Linked DNA regions of Homo sapiens. The protein of the gene in region 2 purifies or fractionates together with the protein of the main gene of each other region. This does not show direct contact. Each region holds a gene or a part of one and is shown on either strand. Other genes may lie near its edges.

Region 1 (2,821 bases), on a different chromosome or scaffold from region 2:
CTATCTCTTTAAAATAATTATTTATTCTCGGACTCATTTATTCCTGTCTCTTATGCTGATTAAAGCTTTGTTTTCTCTTGTATCTTCTATTTCTCTATCCTGATTTTCTCTGCCTGCATATAGACTTGGGATTTTATTATCAAAATTATTTATTTTTGAATAGCTTCATATGGCATATCTTATTTCTATAAGCAGATTGCAGGTTTCTAGAGGACAAGATCCATGTGTTTATAATACTCTTTTTATATCTCCTCCTACATACGAGGGTATCAGTAAATGCTTATTGGTTAGTTGATTTAAAATCACAAATGTATTATTTCAAATTTACTATTATATTAGTTAATTTTTTAAATGGACAAAAGAAAATTCACAAGGAAGTTAGCATAACGTAGGGAAAAAAGCATGGGCTTCTGAATTAGATCGCTCTGGATTCAAATTCGGGGTCTGCCACTGATTAGCACGTGATCTCAGGCAAATTACTTAATGTTTCTGAGTTTCAGTTTTCTTAGTAACCCAGAAAAAATTAACCTAGTTCTATGTTTTTTGTAAACAAGAATTACATGAATTAATGAGATAATATTTTAATCAATTAAGAACTTCATAGAGTGAGTATGAATACTTAATGGGTGGTCAATAATTAGAAGCGCCAGGATCTTGAGGAATAATCAGCCAGTACCTCATTATTACAAGCCATATAAAGAATCAAAACTCTGGAGTTTGCAGGATATAAATAATGAGAATTTGTGATTTTATATATGCATTTCCTAAGTTCTGCCTTTTGCTAGACTAAGCACTTTACATTCACTGTCTTACATCATCTTCATAGCACTCATCACAGGTAGGTATTATTAGGAGCATTTACAGATAAATAAATTAAAGGTCTTAGCCAGCATGGAAAGGCCAAACTTGAGATAGAAACCCTGGTGTCTGACTCTAATGTCTGTTTTTTTTTGTTTGTTTGTTTTTTTAAAATCAGTAATAGACTCTTCACTCCCTTTTTTGGGGGGTTATGTTACACTAATAAAGAGTATAGACAAAATAATTAGGGAGTTATTTTGTCAGATGTGTCACATAAGTTAAGAGTACAGTTCTTCAAAGAGATGGAGGCTTCAATCTCATTGTTTTGAAGGTTTCAAGGTATTTCAAGGTTTCAAGGTTTCAATCTCATCAGTTTTCAAGGTATTGGAGGTCCTCTTTTAGGTGGATAACTGACATAGATGGAGAAAATCACTTATGCATGCGAACACACGGAATACTTTTGAAAATTACCCCTTTCATTACATTCTTAAGTTAGAAAAATAGCCAATTCCTCTGTAATGAACTGAATTATGAATTACTAATTTCTGTCTTCTCCTTTAGGGTGACTCTGGAGGACCACTGGTTAGTTCAGATGCTAGAGATATCTGGTACCTTGCTGGAATAGTGAGCTGGGGAGATGAATGTGCGAAACCCAACAAGCCTGGTGTTTATACTAGAGTTACGGCCTTGCGGGACTGGATTACTTCAAAAACTGGTATCTAAGAGAGAAAAGCCTCATGGAACAGATAACATTTTTTTTTGTTTTTTGGGTGTGGAGGCCATTTTTAGAGATACAGAATTGGAGAAGACTTGCAAAACAGCTAGATTTGACTGATCTCAATAAACTGTTTGCTTGATGCATGTATTTTCTTCCCAGCTCTGTTCCGCACATAAGCATCCTGCTTCTGCCAGATCAACTCTGTCATCTGTGAGCAATAGTTGAAACTTTATGTACATAGAGAAATAGATAATACAATATTACATTACAGCCTGTATTCATTTGTTCTCTAGAAGTTTTGTCAGAATTTTGACTTGTTGACATAAATTTGTAATGCATATATACAATTTGAAGCACTCCTTTTCTTCAGTTCCTCAGCTCCTCTCATTTCAGCAAATATCCATTTTCAAGGTGCAGAACAAGGAGTGAAAGAAAATATAAGAAGAAAAAAATCCCCTACATTTTATTGGCACAGAAAAGTATTAGGTGTTTTTCTTAGTGGAATATTAGAAATGATCATATTCATTATGAAAGGTCAAGCAAAGACAGCAGAATACCAATCACTTCATCATTTAGGAAGTATGGGAACTAAGTTAAGGAAATCCAGAAAGAAGCCAAGATATATCCTTATTTTCATTTCCAAACAACTACTATGATAAATGTGAAGAAGATTCTGTTTTTTTGTGACCTATAATAATTATACAAACTTCATGCAATGTACTTGTTCTAAGCAAATTAAAGCAAATATTTATTTAACATTGTTACTGAGGATGTCAACATATAACAATAAAATATAAATCACCCATTTGCTTGACATTATGATATGATAATCCACAAAGAAGGGGAAGATGGGAAAAATGTTACTAGTCAATTTATTGTAAATTTTTTTAAAATTTGAGGCTAGGATGAAAATTAATTTAATAACAATCAGCATGCTTATGTACTAAAATAATTGTGTTGTGGAATGGGAGGGAACGAAGAGTTCAAACAATTGACTGGAAAGGTTTTATTCATCTAAGACTTTCCCAAACAGCAAATCCTTGAAGGGAATGAGATCCAGGTGTTAGTGTACAGTCTAGTCATGCAACTGAACTGGGGCTCAGACCTCTATTTTGAGATGATTGTAGATATTTTTCTTCCCCTGCTGCTGTGTTTACAGTTCATACATGGTTAATGGTCCTGTTAGACTCCTCTTCGCTGAGATGGAAAGATACCATAGAGAAAATATCCTGGAAGCTGCCTCACTGCTGCATCTAGTGTGACACTGAATGGCTAACTGCCTGGATAACAAAACTGAAGAGTAAA
Region 2 (3,929 bases):
CAAGGAGAGAGGCCTCAGGAGAACCAACCCTGCTGACATCTTGATCTCGGGCTTCCAGCCTCCAAAGCTGTGAGGAAACAGAGCTCTGTTGTTGGCCAGGCACGGTGGCGCACACCTGTAATCCCAGCACTTTGGGAGGCTGAGGCAGGAGGACCACTTGAGGCCAGTTTGAGACCAGCCTGGGCAACACAGTGAGACCCCATCTTAAAAAAAACATTTAAAAATTAGCCGGGCATGGTGGCATGCGCCTGTAGTCTCAGCTACTTGCAGAGCTGAGGTGGGAGGATCCCTTGAGCCCAGGAGGTCAAAGCTGCAGTGAGCTATGATTGTGCCACTGCACTCCAGCCTGGACAACAGCGAGACCCTGTCTCAAAAAAAAAAAAAAAAGAAAAAAAAAGAAAAGAAAAAAGGCCAGGCACAGTGGCTCACACCTGTAATCCCAGCATTTTGGGAGGCTGAGGCAGGAGGATCACTTGAAATAAGGAGTTCAAGACTAGCCTGGCTAACATGGTGAAACCCCATCTCTACTAAAAATACAAAAATGAGCTGGGCATGGTGGCATGCACCTGTAATCCCAGCTACTCGGGGGGCTGAGGCACAAGAATCACTTGAACTTGGAAAGCGGAGGTTGCAGTGAGCTGAGATTGTGCTACTGCACTCCAGCCTGGGCAACAGAGCGAGACTCCATTTCAAAAAAAAAAAAGAAAGAAAAAAGTCAAAAGTTCTGTTGTGGAAGCGCCTGCCTTTGTTATGGCAGCCCCAGCAGATGAATGCACACTTTTTCTGCATTCATGCTAGGAGATTTTTGAAGGCAGGGACTGGCTCTGGTTCAATTCTGGGTCCACTGCCCGCCCAACCCCCCCAGCACAGGGCTGGCCTCAGAAGGCGTGCCCTGAACTGACTGACCTCAGGTTGCCTCCCTATTTTCCGTTTCATGGAAGGACACGGTGCTTGGCAGAAAGGCCCAGGGTAGTGGGGAGCTGTCCTGCGCACCCACTGTGTGCCGGCCTTGCTAAGTGCTTAGCAGACAGCATCACTCTGCATCATCCCACGGTGACCACTACAGCCGCCACAGGAGGCTCCTGAGCTGGGAGCTCTGTCTTACCCAGCATTATACAACCCCAGCAACTAGAGCAGTCCACATTCACTCAGAGGATCCACCATTCTTCCAAGTAGAAATCATCACCCACATTTTCCAAAGGAGGAAGCTGAGACTCAGAGAGGGCAAGGGAGTTCCTCAAAACACAGTTTTTGGCAGGGCACCGTGGCTCATGCCTGTAATCCCAGCAATTGGGAGGCTGAGGCAGGCGGATCACTGGAGGCCAGGAGTACGAGACCACCCTGGCCAACAGAGTGAAACCTCATCTCTACTAAGAAAGAAAAATACACACACACACAAATGTAGCTGGGTGTGGTAGTGCATGCCTATAGTCCTAGCTACATGGGAGGCTGAGGCAGGAGGAACACTTGAACCTGGGAGGTGGAAGTTGCAGTGAGATTGTGCCACTGCACTCCAGCCTGGGCGGCAGAGCCAGACTGTCTCAAAAACAACCAACCAACCAAAAGAACAAAAAACAAAAAACACACAGCTTTGGAGGGCAGAGGTAAGACTTGATTCAGGCCTGCCAGCCTCCCCAGCCTGGGCTACCCCAGGCCCGTGCCCCGCCCCCAGCTGAACCCTGCCACCTCTGGCCCCACAGCCTCGTACCTTTCTGACGATGGGTGACCAGAAGGACGCGGCCATAGCAACCCTGGCCCAGGGGACGCACTTCCTCGTAGAGCTCGTCCACCTCGGCTCGGACCAGGGTCTGAGCACTCAGCGTCATCATGTCCTCCAGCGCGCGGGCAGCCTCCTGGCCCTGCTGGAGCTCCTCTAATGTCAGGCCGCCCAGACCCTCCTCCTCGCTGTCCTCCGAAGCCCCTGCCTCCGCCGGCCCTTCCTCAGACTGTTTGCCGGGCATCTCTGCGAGAACAGAGAGGGGTGCCCAGGCTCAGGTCCCAGGCCCAAGGGAGGAGGGGACTGGGGGTCTGGACTCCTGGGTCTGAGGGAGGAGGGGCTGGGGGCTCATCGCGCTTCTCATTGTGACTCAGTCTCCCTCTTGGTGAGAGGTGGGGAGACAAGTCTGGTGTGAGTTCAAGCCCCAGGTCACAGATGTCCCTGCCCGCGTGCCGCCGCCGCCACCCGCCCACCCTGAGGTTGAAAGATGAACCAGATAACTGAGACTCCCCCATCTTGTTTCCAAAGCAAACAGACTTGGGCCCTGGGGGTGGATGAGTAGACTCTGTCTCCTGAGAACAAACAGGTGCTCTTGGGCTCAGGGCTGGGAGGGCGGGCTGTGCAGAGGGCCTGGGACGCCTGGGTCCTGCATGGGACCGAGCACTTGGGATCAGTCCCCAAGCTCCTGACAGGCCTGGGGTCCCACTTTCACAGCCCACCCACCTCCCTCCGACCCAGCCCCCCAGCCCCTCCTCCGCCAGGCCCAGGGGTCCAGGCCCCCAGCCCACCTCTCTCCCGGAACCTCATACAATTCACACAACTGGGGACCCCCTGATTCTGTTTCCCTCACCCTCCACCGCTCTACAGCCTCCAGGTGCAGCCCAGGCTCCCCTGAGGGACCGAGGACTCGGGCCACCTGGTACAGTCACCCTCAGGTGCTGCCCACCTCAGGCCAGGGCACCTTGCCCACCTCCCAACCTGGGCTCAGACCTCCAGACCTCACCTCCTCCAAGGCCCTCCTGACCCTCCGGCCGCCGGCTGTGGTCAGTGCCCGGCACTTAGGGCTCATGCCAGCAGAGGCCTGCCTAGGAGCAAGACCCCGCCCCGACTTTGGGGGTCGTAAGGCCCCGCCCCTGGGCCCGCCCCTTCTGCCCCCACTGGGAGCAGAGCGACATCGTGTGATGACTCCTGGAACTGGCTGTGGTCAGGTGAATACCCTGACCCAAGAGTTGAGCCCTCCTCCTTCAGACCCAGGAGTCCAGGCCCCAGCCCCTCCTCCTCCCTCAGACTCAGGAGTCCAGGCCCCCAGCGCCTCCTCCCTCAGACCCAGGAATCCAGTCTCCCAGTGCCTCCTCCCTCAGACCCAGGAGTCCAGGCCCCAGCCCCTCCTCCCTCAGACCCAGGAGTCCAGGCCCCCAGCTCTTCTTCCCTCAGACCCAGGAATCCAGGCCCCCAGCTTTCCCTCCCTCAGACCCAGGAATCCAGTCCCCCAGTGCCTCCTCCCTCAGACCCAGGAGTCTAGACCCCAGCCCCTCCTCCCTCAGACCCAGGAGTCTAGGTCTCCAGCCCCTCCTCCCTCAGACCCAGGAATTCAGGTCTCCAGCCCCTCCTCCCTCAGACCTAGGAGTCCAGACCCCCAGCCCCTCCTCCCTCAGACCCAGGAGTCCAGGCCCCAGCCCCTCCTCCCTCAGACCCAGGAGTCCAGGCCCCAGTCCCTCCTCCCTCAGACCCAGGAGTCCAGGCCTCAGCCTCCCCCACCCATCTGAAGTTTTCCGGCAGAACTGAGGCCTCCCCACCCCCTCAAGGCCTCTCTTCCCAGTTGCTCCAGCACCTGCTTCCCGCCCCTCTGAGTCTGAGGTCATCCCACACTGCATCGTTCTGGAATCTCATTGTCTCATTCTTTCCCCAAACTAGACCCCAGCATCTGATCCCCTGGACACCCCTCTCCAAGCACTTGTGTCTGACCTGTCAATGGGGCATTGATGGGGCAGCTGGGTGGGGTCAAGGCAGGGGTGGGTTCCAGAAATGATTTCATTTTCTACACGGGACCCGGACTCCTGGGCCTGATGGAGGAGGGGGTTGAGGACCTGGACTCCTAGGTCTGAGGGAGGAGGGGGTTGAGGACCCGGACTCCTGGGCCTGAGGGTGGAGGGGGTTGAGGACCTGGACTCCTGGGCCTGAGGGAGGAGGGGGTTGAGGACCTGGACTCCTG

Evidence for each region.
Region 1: the proteins of SBK2 (region 2) and TMPRSS11E purify together in Homo sapiens (affinity purification with mass spectrometry; one large-scale study listed by BioGRID and IntAct). This does not show direct contact.

The regions. Positions count from the first base shown.
Region 1 is NC_000004.12:68,495,284-68,498,104, forward strand, and holds the end of TMPRSS11E (transmembrane protease serine 11E precursor), read left to right. Parts: intron 1-1,359; coding exon 1,360-1,521; 3' UTR 1,522-2,321; downstream 2,322-2,821.
Region 2 is NC_000019.10:55,534,334-55,538,262, forward strand, and holds the start of SBK2 (serine/threonine-protein kinase SBK2), read right to left. Parts: upstream 2,801-3,929; 5' UTR 2,721-2,800; intron 1,964-2,720; 5' UTR 1,962-1,963; coding exon 1,709-1,961; intron 1-1,708.